Linked DNA regions of Homo sapiens. The protein of the gene in region 1 purifies or fractionates together with the protein of each later gene. This does not show direct contact. Each region holds a gene or a part of one and is shown on either strand. Other genes may lie near its edges.

Region 1 (6,973 bases):
ATGGAAAACTTGCATTAATGTTGGTTATATGCATAAACATGGTAAAACTGGGGTTTTACCCATATACCCGGGTTATAAAATGTTATAAACTTTGATCTAACACATGAAAACAACTCGTGTATATTATCTTGGAAACTGACCTTGCAAGTCAGTGCACTGAAAATGTTGAACGTGGCTACCAAGCTATTGCTGAGACTCTGGAAAACTTGGGTAACAATATAGCTTCATGGGAGGAAAAAAAAAAGATGGGCACAATGGCTCCGTGTCTGTGTTATTCAAGAGACTGAGGTAGGAGGATCACTTGAGAGTAGGAGTTTCAAACCACACTGAGCAACACAGAAAAACCACATCTCTAAAAAAAAGTTTTTTTAATTAGCCAGATGTGGTGGCACATGCCTGTAGTCCCAGCTACTTGGGAGGGTGAAGCAGGAGGATTGCTTGAGCCTAGGAGTTTGAAGCTATAGTGAGCTATAATCGCACCACTGCAGTCCAGCCTGGGCAACAGAGTGAGACCCCATCTCATTAAAAAAAAAAGAAAAGAAAAACAGAAAACAAAAAAAAAGAATACACTGAATTCAAATCCAGGCTCTGCCACTTGCTATGTGTAATTCTGGAAAAATTCTGAACCTCAAAGTCTGTTTCCTCTCTGTGAAGTGGGGATATTAATAATAATACTTACTTCTTAGGGATTAAGTAGATTGAATAAAATCATGTACCTTGAGCTCAGAATAATGTCATATATAATGATGAGAAGTGTTAATGCAAAATACACATGCTCCTCTACTTACCAAGGTGTTATGTCCCAATAAATCCATTGTGAGTCAAAAATATCATAAGTCAAAAATGCATTTAATACCCCAATAAACCCATAAAGTGGAAAAATCTTAAGTCCAGGAAGTTACATCCTAATAAATCCATGGCGAAGTCAAAAATCTTAAGTCTAACTATCATAAACCCAGGACCATCTGTAACTAAAACTGAAGTCCCTGGTTACAGCAAAGACATTTAAAGTTGTCAGTTAAGTATGCTAACAAGCTCACTAGCTTAGGAATCAGAAGATCCAAGTTTAAATTACAGTCAAGTTTTTTTTTGCTAGGTATGTGACCTTGGCTAAGGGCCAATCACTTTGTACTTCAGTCCTTCATTTAACTGTTAGGTATTAATCATATTAGTTACCATGTATTAAGCCCTAACCATAAACTATGCAATCTGATACGTTTACATACGGACTCCACTCTTCACAATACTCTTCAAGACAAATATTCTAATCTCTATTTTACAGATGGCGAAAACTGAGAGAAGTTAAACTCATTCAAGTCCACACAGCTAGTAAAGGGTAGAACCTGGCTCCATGTCCAAGTTATCGTATTTAACCTGCCACCTGCCTCCCCTAGAGATCAAAGGAAAGTGTCCTGTGAAAGTGTTTTTTGAAAAAAAAAAAATCCTATATAAATGTGAAGTATTATTAGTATCCTATATCAATACAAATAATTCACAGATGGGTTTGCGATTTGCCCCTTAGTGCCTGGGAACTTCGAAAGAACAAAGGGTTACACTTTAAGCTCTCTTTCGTCTCCTCTTGGAATTTTGCCTTGACCTCAATTTCCCTTGAACAGACCTGATAAACAACTAATTAAAGAACTCCAGGTGCCGCTGTAGGCCTCAAAGACAGCTCTCTGCACTCCTCTGAGTCCAGGGCAACAAAATTATATGCTTTTCCTAGAAATGTGGACAAAATATTTTGTTGAGCTAACTTTTCACACCTACCTTTGCAGTTCACTTGGGTTAGCACAAATAAAGTGGTCACATAAACGTTCACATAAACTAGTGCTTTAGGTCATGCCTGTGTCAAACTTAGTTCCAGGCCCCCATGAAATCTAATTAAAGCAAATTTCAGTCCCTTTTTAAGGATACGATGTAAAAGAGCTGATCTTCCTCATGAAAATTTTGTTAACTAGTCCCACGTGATTAAGTATGAATCTCTAGGTTATCCACTCTTGGAATAACAGCCCAGCTTTTTAAACTTCTTGGAAATACCACCAAAGGGTTTCTGGTGCTGATGTTAGAAATGACAGATTGGGGGAAAGTGGGCCTCCGTTTGGTATTACCTGGAAGGCTCTTCAATGTTTTCCCCCCCACTTAATCTGGGTATCACCTGCAAGGCACTTCTATTTTTTTTTTCCCCCGTTAATCTAGGGAGATGACCTGCGTGACTCTCACGCCTGCGGAGGAAACAGGAGAGTAAAGTCCAGATGAAGTGGAGGGTATTAATCTGCCCCGCCAGATCTCGAGTCTGGGAAGGTGCTCACGCCTTGAACGGCCGGCGGAATCCGGGACATCTGGAGCAAACACATTTGCAAGCGGAAGAAAGGTTGCCTCCCTCAACCCGCTTCCCAAAGGCCAGATCTCGGAGCAAGGGGGACTGTGACTTTCTGCGGTCCTGCCAAGTTAAATTTTCCCTTCCAGGGAAGGCACACTCACTTTCCCCCGGGACGCCCCCGGCGGACTCAACACGGCATCGGATTTCGCGCTCCGGGAAACGCCGCTCAACCCTCCTGGGCCCACAGAAATACGCGCGGCGCGGCGCGGCGCGGCGGAGAGGCGGGAGAGCCTGAGCACCTGGCGCCTTACCTCCGACGGCGAGATTTCAAACGCGCCCGCGATCTGGGCGTAGAGCTCCTGGATGCTGGAGAAGCCCTCCACTCGGCCCGTGGCACTACCGTGCGCCAGCTGCGCGTGGAAGACCAGCCTGCGTGCGGGAGCCCGGGACGCTGAGAGGCTCCCGCCGCCCGCGCCCGTCGGCTCGCCCTCCACCAGCCCGGCGGTCTCCTTGGACTTGGCCTTCTTCTTCCCCCGCAGCTTCAGGGGCATCTTGCAGGGCCGAGAGCGCGGGCCCACCTGCGCTGCCGTCCGCCGCCTCCTCCCCCCGGCGCCTCGGACTTTGCGCCCCGGGCCCCGCGCAGGTAAAAGCAGCCTCCAATGGCAGCCGCGCTTCCGCCTGGCTGCGTCGGGTCAGGGCCCCGACCTCCACCCCTGGACCGGAGCAGCCGCCCGCCCGCCCAGCCTCCCCCGGGATGGATCTGGAGAGAAAGAAAGTTACGTAGTCCCTCATCCTATCACCAGGTTTATCCCTACTCCTTGTAAAAAATGGCTCTATTTACGTGAACGCCTGAGGATGCCGACGCTACAGAACAATACGCCTTAGAAGGCAAACACGCTGGCCCTTCTCTGCTTTTCATAAATCTGTAGTAGGCACCCACGCATGATTTGGCCACAGGCCTTCGGGTCCGTACGTCTGGACTTTCGGGGATAGGGATTTAAGTAGAAGTCAACCTTCGTCTGCATTTTCTGCGTCTTACGCTCTGCAGGGCAGAATTGGAAGAGAAAGTCACATAACCTTGAGCTTGGTGCTACGTTGTATTCATAAACCCCCTCAGCCGGGTCCTTGGCACCTCTGAGTTTCCCTTTTGCCTATTTCCTGGGCTGCTTCCTCTCCCAACATTCAGCACGCCTCCAAAGCCATTTGCCCCAGCTCTGCCCTTCTTAGTCTCTACAGAGGACCTTGCCTCATATAGTACAAAGAAAATTGAGGCCATTCGGTGTGAAGTGTGAGTTCCCTCAATTCCCTACCTCGCGTTTATTGCATTGTTTTCAAGTCCAGTCCCCTCCAACTACGCTTTTTACAACAAAGCAAAACAGTCTTGAATTATTAGCTACGAAATTTCCTCACTTCTCTGCTCTTAGAAGCACTGTGATCAGACTTTGCCCCCACACTACTGAAATTTCACTTACTATGCAATTTCAGTGGAGTGAAATCACTATCATATCTTAATTACCAAATACAAGTAATTCTTTTAGGTTTTTATCTTACTTGGTCTGCGTTGCCCATTTCATTCTTCTTAAATTTTGTCCTCTTTTGGCTTCCTTACCTCTCCTCTCCCCGTCCCCACCCTGCTCCTTGCTAACTGCTAGTCTCCAGGAGTTGCATTCACCGACAGTTTTTCCTCGACAAACTTCCCTTCTTACTTAGCTTTGCATGTTCTTCCTGTATGGTCACATCAACATTCTCGGTTTCACAGACGTTGTTGTCTACCAAATGTCTCCAACTCCAGCTTATTCTACCAGAAAGGGAATGTACTGTAGGAAACCCAAATTGAGACTGAACAAAACTGACCTCATCATTTCTCCTGCATCTATCTTTTCTTTTTTTTACTCCTGATTTCAGTTAATAGGATCACCAAGCACTCCCAGACCAGACATTGTGGAGTCGTCGTATCAGGATTTTTCCTCTTCCCTCACCTCTCACATCAATTCAGTCCCGAAAATCCATATTTCTCAACTTAAGGTTAGCAGATGTACTGGGGGAGGAGAGTCTTAAGAATTCTTTAGGAGGCCGGCGCGGTGGCTCACGCCTGTAATCCCAGCACTTTGGGAGGTGGAGGCGGGCGGATCACCTGAGGTCAGGAGTTCGAGATTAGCCTGGCCAACATGGTGAAACCCCGTCTCTACTGAAAATACAAAAATTACCCGGGCGTGGTGGCGCATGCCGGTAGTTCCAGCTACTCGGGAGGCTGAGGCAGGAGAATCGCTTGAACCCGGGAGGCGGAGGTTGCAGTGAGCCAAGATTGTGCCACTGCACTCCAGCCTGGGCAACAGAGCGAGATGAAAAAAAAAAAAAAACTTTAGGATAACTTTAACATTTTTGTTTTATGTTTCTGTGACTTAGAAAAGTAATACAGGGACACCTGCACTCAGCCAGTGCTGCTGCTGTTGCTTCCCAGGAGAGCCAGGGCAACTTTCCACTTGGCCCTCATCCAGCTTCAAGTTTCTTCATCAAATCAGATAACAACACTCGAGCTTGTAGCCTTGTCCGGGAGACAGCAACGCAAGGAGCCAAAATGGTTTCTTTGTTGGAATGCTTTAATTCTCCATATGGCACAAAATATTTTCCTGAATATGCAGCGAAAATTCCTGGTAAATCCACACAGAAGCTTTCTGAAGTAGCAAAGGAATACAACCTCACTAGAGGTTCCATCCCTGAAGAGGATGCTGGGAAATTAGATAACACCTATGCTGTGTTTGCACCTCATGGAACTTTACTAGTAAAGCACAGAAAGGTCCATCTGCTTAACACTGGTGTTCCTGGAAAAATGACGTTTCAAGAATCCACAATGTTGAGTCCAGGCAACAGTTTCTCCACATTTGATACTCCTTACTGCAGAATGAGTCGGGGCATCTGCTATGACACTGGTTTGCAGAGCTTGCACAAATCTACACACGGAAAGGCTGCCAGCTGTTGGTTTATCCAGGGGCTTTCAGTTTGACCACTGGACCAGCCCACTGGGAATTGCTTCAGGCTCTTGATAATCAGGTGTATGTGGCCACATTCTCCTGCCCAAGATGACAAAGCCTCCTATGTTGCCTGGGGACACAGCACTGTAGTGAACCTTTGCTGCTAGGGCTCTCAAGGAAGAAACAATCATGTATTCAGACATAGACCTGAAGAAGCTGGCTGAAATCCATCAGCAGATCCCCATTTTTAAACAGAAGCAATCAGACCTCTGTGCAGTGGAGATGAAAAAGCTCTAAAGTTTATGTTTCCAACGTGTCGCAAAACAAGAAGATACGATTCTGCAACATAATCAACTCCCTATTCTTTAATGAAGATCCTTTTTTTAAATTTCACCCTTTTCCTTCCCAAGGAGCTCTCTATTAAGATGATAAATCCTCAGCAAGCTGATATTTTCCACACCACAATAAGTAGTTAAAAAGGAGCCTGGAGCCGAAGAGCTGGCTCTGAAGTTCCTTCCGTATTTAAGTTGCCTCAGAGCAGTTTGTGAAAGTAACCGATCTTGGTATCCTGGTGATTGATTCACCTAATACAAATATATTTGTGTCATGAACCTCTTATCCCACTTGCTGGAGTTGGAATCCATTATCTGGAAAACTTGATCTGATGCCATTCTTTTCCTAGCAGTACCTTAAAGTTCCATTTTTTGTCCACAAGTAGCTATAGGACGTAAGGTGATAGATCTTTGGTGTTTGCTAGGGGAGGTTGCAGCCCCTTCCTTCCTAGCAGCCTTTGGGCTCTTCAAATTTAAGAAGAAGCTCATCATTCAACCCCAGACCCTCTTGGTCTTTGGGGGAAAGACTGGGTCAACAATGACCCCCATGGGAGAATGGCAGTGGTGGCATTTGGTGAAGGCAACAGTATGAATCTGCAAAAGATTTGATAGGGTCGAGTGTCTGGAAGTCCAAAGTCCCTTTTTTTTTTTTTTTTTTTAATTTTTCCCCTAGTAAGACTTTCTCGCTCCATAGATAAGCAATCACTGTACCAAGTGATTCTTAGACTTTTTGGTCTCAGAATTCTTTTACACAGTTAAAAATTAAGGACTGAAGCCTGGCGTGGTGGCTTACACCTGTAATCCCAGCACTTTGAGAGGCAGAGGCAGGCCAGGACCTGGCCAACATAGCGAAACCCTGTCTCTACTAAAAATACAAAAATTAGCCTTGCGTGGTGGCACACGCTTGTAGTCCCAGCTACTCTGGAGGATGAGGCATGAGAATCGCTTGAACACGGGAGGTGGAGGTTGCAGTGAGCCGAGATCTCACCACTGCATTCCAGCCTAGGCAACGGAGCGAGACTGTCTCAAAAAAATAAAAAATAAAATAAAATTTTCAAATATAGACTAAGGACTGAGGCCCAGCACGGTGGCTCACGCCTGTAATCCCAGCACTTTGGGAGACCAAGGCGGGAGGATAGCCTGAGTCCAGGAGTTCGAGAGCAGCCTGGGCAAAGTGGTGAAACCCTGTCTCTACAAAAGAATACCAAAAAAAAAAAAAAAAAAAATCAGCTAGGTGTGGTGGTGCATGCCTGTAATCCCAGCTATTCAGGAGGCTGAGGTGGGAGGATCGCCTGAGCTTGGGAGGCAGAGGTTGCAGTGAGCTGAGATCATGCCACTGCACTCCAGCC
Region 2 (8,908 bases), on another chromosome or scaffold:
ATAGAACGGAGTCCACCCCTATCCTCCGGAGAGGGGCGCATTGCTGGTGTTCATTCCTGTGGGAAAACCCTGTGACCTTGGCGTGTGCCGCTCTTCCTCGTTCCTCTGAGCCCGCAGGCTTTCTTGCATCCTAGCTTCTGAGAGGCGTGCTTCTTGGTGCCCGGCCTTTCTGCCACCTCCCCGGCTCCCCTGGATTGAGCCCTGTTTGTCTGGGAGAGCCCAGAGTGTCCTGTAGACACAGGTGTGCAGGCAAGGGTCACATGTGGCACATACCCGGCTCGGCTGCCCATGTTGAGCCAGGAGACAGAAGGGACGCAGCCCGGCAGGAGTGGGGCAGGAGTCGGGTGAGACCCTCTCTGGGTGGCCTGCAGTCGTGTGCAGTGCCAGAAGCATGGAGCCACGAGATTGCCCAGGGGAGGGAGATGGAACTGGAAGCGGCCGTCAGGGGGGCCACCTTGGCAACCAGGAAATCACTGCACTTGGGTGGGGAGGAAGCGAACAAACGCAGCAGGGAAGCCTCCGGGCCCCCATGTGGGGTCACCTGCAGGGAGGGGATGGCCTGCGTCCCTCCCATCAGCCATCACCCATGTGTGATTCAGAGCACACCTCCTGGCTCTCCAGAACCTGGTGCCGGGCCGTGGCCTGGTCTCCTCACGGGTGCACCCAGCACAGTGGCAGACAAAGCGCCTCCATCCCGTGAGAGCCTCTGTGCGGGCGGCCCCGAGACCACAGCCGTGGCTGTGCATGCTGTCGTGGAACCTGACAGCATTGCTGAGCCCAGGACACTCACCTCGACGTTGCACCAGAGGTGGAAAAATGACACAACCAGGAGTACCACACCAGCTGTGGAAAATAACCGCCGAGTAGGTGGCTTTTACACTCATTTTCCTGCTTTTTTATCTTTTTCCAAAAGACATAAATGATCAAACTCTCTCAATTCGATTGGTGAGCATCTCTGGGAGGGGATTTTTTGGTGGGCCTCCCTGTCCGCTCCAGGGAGGGGTGTGTCCTCTGTGCCCGAGTCCTTCCGCTACCCAGAAAGGAGGAAGTGAAACTTGCCCTTGGCCAGGTCGGCTCCCTGAGGCAAGGTTAGATTTTGTGGTGATAAAGTGAAACTGGTTTTGCAGTGTCCCCACCCGCCCCCCACACCTGTGTCAGTCATCATCTTGGCCAAACTTATAGAAACCACAGACGGATTTCTCCCAGGTCGTTTATTAGGAGACCCTGAAAACTGGCTGTTCTATTCCGCTTGTCATCACAGGGCTGCCACGATTTCTGCGGCCTCTGCCACCGCTTTACCTGCCCCTCCCAGAGAGTCACAGCCAGGCCACCCCCTGCCTCTCATTTTTAGCATAGCTTTCGGTGTCCTTGTTCTGATGCCTTGGGTTGGAAACAGTGTTTAAATGATGGGGAAAATGTGAGAGTTTGAGACAGTCAGTGTGCAGGGAGATGGGAAGGAAAAAGGAGTCAAATGAGACCTGGGTTGTTCCTCTCTCCACTGCCTTTAGAACGGGGTCAGCCTTTGCCCCTGCCCCACAAAGTCGTGTAAGATCTGGCCCTACCCATCCCAACCCTGGGGGCCACTGTGCTCTGTGCACCCCTGCCCTGAACACACCCAGCTCGCCCGGCCTCCAGCTCCTGCAGATGCTATGCTGTTCCTCTTCCTGGAGCTCCCTTTCCCAGACCTCCTCATCTCCCTCAGCTGCCAGCTCAAATGCCGTCTCTCCAGGACGTCCTTCTCTGCAGCCCCGCGCACTCCATCATCCTCTGTCTCCATGGTGTTTCTTGAATCAGAAGCGGTTTGTTTTGGCCAGGCATGGAGGTTCACACCTGTAATACCAGCACTTTGGGAGGCTGAGACAGGAGAATCGCTTGAGCCCGGGAATTCAAGACCAGCCTGAGCAACATAGTGAGGCTTCATCTCTCCAATTTTTTTTTTTTAAATCAGCCAGGTGTGTTGGTGTGCACCTGTAGTCCCAGCTACTTGGGAGGCTGAGGTGGGAGGATCACTTGAGCCCAGGAGGTCGAGGCTACACTGAGCTATGATCGCAGCACTGCACTCCAGCCTGGACAACAGAGTGAAACCCTGTCTTGAAAATAAAGGAAGAGAAGAAAAGAAACAAGTTTGTTTATGTTCTTGTGCACTTGTTTCTCATTATTACTCTAACTGAACATAGGTCCCATGAGAGGAAGGGCCCCGGCACATAAGAATCACTGAGGTACTAGATGGATAAGTGATTGAATGAATGAATGATGGATGAATGAATGAATGATGAATGAATGAATGAATGAATGCAGGCCTTGGGCTGGGCTAAGAATCCAAGCGGGAGGCATTCTCACGTGGCCATACCATGCTTCTGTTCTGTGGTTCCATTTCCTCTTTCCATTCTTTTTGTGCCTGTTTTTGATAGAGTCCGTGTGTGAGGCATCCCCGTACCTCTGCCTGCCCCTTCCCAGCAGCATGGCTGTGGCTGCACTCAGAGCACCCCTCTGTCCTGGCCACTTCTCTCCCACCAGAGCCTCTGTCCGTGATGGTGTCAGCTGAAGAATGACAAGGTTTGTTCATTTGGAAAGGAGAGCCTCATTCCTCATAAAGGGTTGCAGCCTGTGGGTGGCTATTCTGACAGGTTGGGAAGCAGAGCCTCCTGCCAGAAGCCAAAAACAGACACTTCAAGGGAGGGGCAAAGGCAACAAGAATTTATGGATATTGGTGGCCAAATATACATATTCAATAAGCCGTAGGGGGAGTCATGAGTATTTATGAAAGGAGAAATGTGCACATTCACATTTAAGCCTTGTGCTCCTTCAGGGGTCCCATGTACAAAAAATGGTGGCAGTGGCATGATTCAAGGGTAGGGTTTTCTTTCAGCCCCCTGATGCGTCAGAGGCGAAGCAGGGGACATGAAACCCTCGCTGTGCATCCTCTGTAGACTGGCCAGAAACACTGCGTGGTCGGTGGGCTCCCGTCAGGCAAAGAGGAGGGGCAGCGTCTGGCAGTGGTAGAGGCCTTTGAAAGGGAACCCAGCTTTTTAAGAATCAGAAAAGTCATTCAGCAGCGCCCTTTTGATGCAAGAGACTATTCCCAATTCTCGGGATACTGTCAGCACTCGGCACATGGTCTCTGTTATGGTGGGGAAGGAAGGGGAGTCAGCTGGAGATAGCCGTGGGCAGTGGCCATCAGCCATGGGAGCAGAAGCAGCCCACGGTGGCCTCAGGCCCAGGGAGAACTTCCTAAGGGGCCAGAGTGAGCTGTCACAACTGGTCCTGGATCCACCATAAGAACGAAGCCGTGGGGTGTGGTGACCTGGAGCCGTCGGTGATGGCTGTAGCAGGGGCGTTTTGGTCAAGTTGCGGGAGGTAGGGAAATAGGCGTGTCGGGCTCTGTAGAGAAGTTTCTATGAGAAAGGGAAGGAGTTGCTGTGGGATGCAAAGCAAGGGAGGGTGGTTGTTTTGGGAGTGGAGTGGGGGCCGGAATAAACCCAAAGAGACTTGAAAACTAACAGAAATAAGGAAGCTAGCAAGTGCATGGGGCGCATTGGGGCGGGAAAGACTGGTGTGGTGTGAAGGGACTCTCTGTGGATTGGGAGAAGACCCACTTTAACCTCCAGAAGAGGAGGAGTTGATGGACAGTGTGCATTGGATGGGGTCCTGAGGGATTCCTCCCAGGCAGCCCCAAAGCCAGAGCCTGTGGCTGTTAATGTGGGAGAGGGAAGGAGGATGGGCCCATTGTCCAGATGCCATGTGCAGAAGGCTTCCCCTCGAGTTTTGGGGCATGTTGGGAAGGAAGCAGGATGGAATAAACATGCAGCAAAAAAGCCTAAATTGTATTTCTTTGTACTTTATAAGAGTATTTTCCCCCGCCCCTTTTTTGAGAAAAGGTCTCGCTCTGTCTCCTAGGCGGGAGTGCAGTGGTGTGATCACAGCTCACTGCAGCCTCGAACTCCTGGGCTCAAGCAGTCCTCCCACCTCAGCCTCCCAAGTAGCTGGGACTACAAGCAGGTGCCACCACACCCAGCTAATTTTTTTTTTTTTTTGTCTGTAGTAGAGACAAGGTTTGATTGTGTTGCCCAGGCCGGTGTGGAACTCATTGAGCTCAAGCTATCCTCCCACCTCAGCCTACCAAAATGCTGGTATTATAGGGGTGAGCCACCATGGCTGGACAAGAATATCTCTTGAAGCAAGTTCCCAGACTCTGGCCGCCAGGCCCGCTATTCCTGTCAATGGCGTTTTGTTGGAACTCAGCCACACCCATTCCCATCTGCATCGTCTGTGGCTTTCAGGCTTCGTGTGTCCCACAAAGGCAAAAGTACTATCTGTCCCTTTATAAAGTTCAGTCACCCTGACTGAAATCATGGTGTACTCACTGTAACAAAATTCCAGTTGAAACCAGGGTAGTGCAGCAGTCCATCGAGTGTTTCCTGGTGTACCTGTGTGCCCATAAAAAGAGGAAGCTGCAAGGATCAAGTTCATAGAGCTAGAGCCTCCTGCTGTGAAATTTTTCTATTGCTAAGAATTGGTTGGCACCCAAAATTTGTCCTTTAAAAATATGCATCAGTTATGCCTTGTTGATGGTGTGGGTGGTTTGTAACAAACTAAACCAGGGCTGGGCTCAGTAAAAGTTGTGTAAGTGAGTGAGGGAGAGATGCCTTCATTCTTGGTGTTGGAAGTGCCGACCTCTCCTTTCATCTGGGATCCATGGAAATGGGACCTTGGCTGCCCCTGGATGGAGTCCAGGCGCTCTCCTTCCCAGGGGCCAGAGAACACCTGTGTTTCCCAGGACCTTGGGGACCTGTGCCCAGTTCCCCTGGGGAGAGAGCGGTTTTGATCACTCGCACCAGGAATGACTCGAGTCAGAAGCAGGTGACTTTGACCTGTTCTGTTACCTAGAAAATGAGGCCACTTTGGAGCCAGGCAGCTGTGCACACAGCCAGATTAGCTTGGTGTGTGCTGAGTAGCCACGAAAGAGCTGAGTTGGGGACATTGAGTGACTTCGTGTCAAACCCTGTGGTGGTCCAGCACACCTTCCCAGGACCACAGACGAGGCTGCCACCACAGCAAGAAAATTAGGATCTGACAGCCTACCAGCTAACTACACACCCTCCTGACACGTGAATACACACGTGTATGCTTTTATCTTCTGAAACAAATCTAGTCAACATTTAATTTTTTAAAACAATTTGTTTTGAATATATCCAAATTCAAATAGAAACAGACCTTCTTCTGAAATATATAAATAGTTGATATGAAGCATAATCCAGACCGGTATTACATTTGGTTCAATTCCCAATTCCATGTGGGGCTCATGGAATTGGGAAGGCCGCTGGCCGAGTGCTGAGAAGTTTGCATATTTGCCTCCACGCCTGTCACTTCCAGCTGTGGGACCCGGGACAAGCCTGGGGTCTGCAGGCTTCCTGTGCTTATCTGTAGAACAGATGCCTTGCGGCCCACACAGCAGGGAGGACCTGGGGTTGGGTGCCCAGAGGCAGCTCTGGCTCTGGCATTTCTCGGTGTGAAACCCACTTCCCCTCTCTCAGCTTCTTCTGTAAAGTGGGTTGAACTCAGCCTCTGCTTCATGGGGGGCTCTGGGGAGCGGAGGAGCTGAGTGTCTGGCTCACAGCAAGCCCTGGGTTTCTTTTTTTTTCTTTTCTTTTTTTTGAGACGGAGTCTCGCTCTGTCCCCTAGGCTGGAGTGCAGTGGCGCGATCTCAGCTCACTACAAGCTCCGCCTCCCGGGTTCACGCCATTCTCCTGCCTCAGCCTCCTGAGTAGCTGGGACTACAGGTGCCCGCCACCACACCCGGCTAATTTTTTTTGTACTTTTAGTAGAGACAGGGTTTCACTGTGTTAGCCAGGATGGTCTCGATCTCCTGACCTCGTGATCCACCTGCCTCAGCCTCCCAAAGTGCTGGGATTACAGGCGTGAGCCACCGCTCCTGGCCTAGCCCTGGGTTTCTAGTAGCTTCTACAAAAACAAACGGCCACCAGGTCCTCAAACCCCCTTCTGGCCAGCCTCGTTGGTAGCCAGCTGTCAGCCTCTCATATCTAGGGAGGCATCAGAATGATCTGTCGCTCCTGGTTCTTTTTAAATTCCATGGATTGAGATGCTGGGGGCCCACCTAGAAGGATCGTGAGTCACCTACTCTGGCTAATGCATGCCACAAGTCGCCAAAAAGGTCACCTTTTTGTATTGTTAGACTCCCCCCAGGTAAACATAAAGTGTACATTAGAATGCTCAGTCTAAAACAGCTGGGCTCGCTTTGAAGTAAGCAGCCCAGCCGACCGCATGAGCACTAGCAAGACGACCCTGCTATCGGCACAAAATAGTTGGCCAAAGAGCGCCGGTACCAGCGGTGTGGTTGGCGGGGGTGGGGGGTTGTTTGTTTTTTAGCACACTTTGGAGTCCTAAAATGACAACCTCAGGTGCTGAAACAGAGCGTAGAGAGAAAGAACGCCAGGACTGGTGACTTTCCTCTTCTCTTAGCAACTCGCCTGTCCAGGGGCTCACGGGAGCCTCAGAAACCGTCTCTGGGCTGCCTCAGGCCACTGTGCCCTGGAAGCCAAGCCTTTCCCATTGTTGGATGAGAGAAAGCTTTAAGGGTGGGGGTGAGCTGTGCCTTCTATGGCAGAGGAGACTCAGACAAGAATCAGACCCAGCATGCGGCTCTCCTGCCTTCCTGGTGACGTCATCCTGACTGGCTCAGAGCCACACGCTAACCATGTGTGGCCTCATTTATAATTAGGATGGCGCCAGAGTCGCTTGCATGACACCCAGTGGCAGTCATGTGACTTGGCACAGTGTACAGGACTAGCAGGCCTGCTGTCTTGTGCTAGCCAATTTGATTTGTTTCTTTAAACCAGAAGTGTGAGTTTGACCCCAGCCTGGGGTCCCCCAGATATATTAGCCATATGTTCAATGCCTGTCCCATCCAGCCCCCGTTTTTAGGAGGGAATTGAGTCCCAAGGCGGCCACGTGGTTGTTCCAGCCTCAGCTGGGACTTCACTGTCCCAGCAGGGCTGTCTGTCCTATTACCTCCCCTCTGACTTCCTCTGTGGTTAGTAATCCCTGTCCTAAAGACACAGTAGAAAGTTCTTGCAGCTTTGACGTGGGAGCAGTCCCACCAATTGTGGAAACCGTTTTCTCATGTTGCACAGTCCTGGGGGAGGTCTGTGCATCTCCTGGTCACCGTGGTTCTTGGTGGTACACCCTGTCTCTGACCAGGGCCTCTTCTGTTCTCTGTCTTCTTCTCCCTGGGTGGTCCCTGCCTGAGTCCCCCAGCCTTCTACCCGCGGTGCTCTCTAACTGGCCAATGTCAGCACCGCACACTCAGCAGGTCCAGCTCGCCCTCCATCCGTCTCGGCCTCAGGCTATGGTGTCTATTTGGTGAAATGCATTCGTTTCTCTCTGGTGTCCCCAGAGAGTGGGAGTGGTGACAACTCTAATCCATATTCACCCTGTCTGTTAGCTTCCTGGGGCTGCCAAGACAAATGACCACAAACCAAGGGACATCAAACAACAGACACCTGTCCTGTCACCATTCAGGAGGCCACAGGTCTCAGTCAGGGGTCCCAGGGTGGCCTCCGTCTGGAAGCAGTGGGGGAGAAGGGGTTGCAGGCCTGCCTCTCCTAAGCCCCACTGGCTCAACCCTCCTTCTTTTCCTTGGCTTGTTGCCGCATCTGTCCCGTCTCTGCCTCCGTCTTCACACGGCCTTCTTCTCTCTGCCTCTCTGTCTGCTTTCTCTTCTTATGAAGACGCCAGTCCTTGGTGACTTCCTCTAATCCAGAGGGACCTCATCTTAATTCTATCTGCAAAGACCCCATTTTCAAGTAAGGTCACGTTCTGAGGTTCTGGGTGGATGTGGGCTTTGGAGGGAGACACTGGTGAACCTGGCACGCTCTGCACATCATCTCTTTTCTCCCGTGAATCCTGGCAGTGATCGATTTCAGGGGACATTTGGTAGTAGGCCAGGGAACATGGAGAATAGAGAGCCCATGGCCATTCCTGCGCCGTCTGCTGGAATTCTGCGGGGAGCAGAGCCTGCCCCACTCCCTACACTGTCTCACGCTGTGTGCCTCTTCCTCTGCAGGCCCTACTGAAGATGGACTGCCAGGGCCTGGTGGTCAGACTCATCCAGGACTTTGTGCTCCTGACCACGGCTGTAGAGGTGGCCCAGCGCTGGCGGGAGCTGGCTGAGAAGCTGGCCAAGGTCTCCAAGCAGCAGATGGACGCCTACGAGTCTCCCCACCGGGACAGGAACGGGGTTGTGGACAGCGAGGTGAGCAGCGGCTGAGCTTCGAGCTCACCGAGCCCCTCTGTCCCTGGGTTCCGTGGACCCATGCAGTGCAGCCATAAAAAGTCTTGCCTCGCGGCATTTCTGTGAGGGTGCAACAGGTGGAAATGTGCACGCATGTGCCCAGCACTGGGTGTGCCTCACTGAGTGGGAGCCATCCTCCGGATTGGTTGTCGTGAGCCCTGGCTTTAGGATGTCAAGGCTGTTCCACACGACATGGGAAGGACAAACAGAACTGCCTGTCCCTTGTTCATTTTGATCTTAAATTACCATCCGTAGGGTTGAATAATGCAATAACACATACACAGAGGACTTTGTGAGCCGCTCTGGACTGGAGTGATACCTGGTATGTTACATAACTTGGGCCAAAGCCGGTGTGGCCGGGCTCTTGCTCAGAGGTCCTTTGTGTTCTCGCATGTTTGTGGAGGGCACCCTAGTAAGCTTCCTGGAAGACGGTTCAGGCTTGCAAGATCCAGGAAGCAGGAAGTCCCAAGGACAAAGCTGTCTTTTATGAATGGGATGAATTTCCAAACAAATGGCACAGAGAGAAAGTGCCATAAAGATTGTAAGGAAAGAGAAGTCCTTTCTGTTTATTCATTTGTTGCGCACCTACTCTTGCAC

What was found.
Region 2: the proteins of GIPC2 (region 1) and SH3BP4 purify together in Homo sapiens (affinity purification with mass spectrometry; 3 studies listed by BioGRID and IntAct, with this or other methods). This does not show direct contact.

Annotation. Positions count from the first base shown.
Region 1 is NC_000001.11:78,041,993-78,048,965, reverse strand, and holds the start of GIPC2 (PDZ domain-containing protein GIPC2), read right to left. Parts: upstream 3,001-6,973; 5' UTR 2,872-3,000; coding exon 2,632-2,871; coding exon of another isoform or gene 2,482-2,631; intron 1-2,481.
Region 2 is NC_000002.12:235,044,479-235,053,386, forward strand, and holds part of SH3BP4 (SH3 domain-binding protein 4), read left to right. Parts: intron 1-8,083; coding exon 8,084-8,272; intron 8,273-8,908. UniProt on the Homo sapiens protein: May function in transferrin receptor internalization at the plasma membrane through a cargo-specific control of clathrin-mediated endocytosis.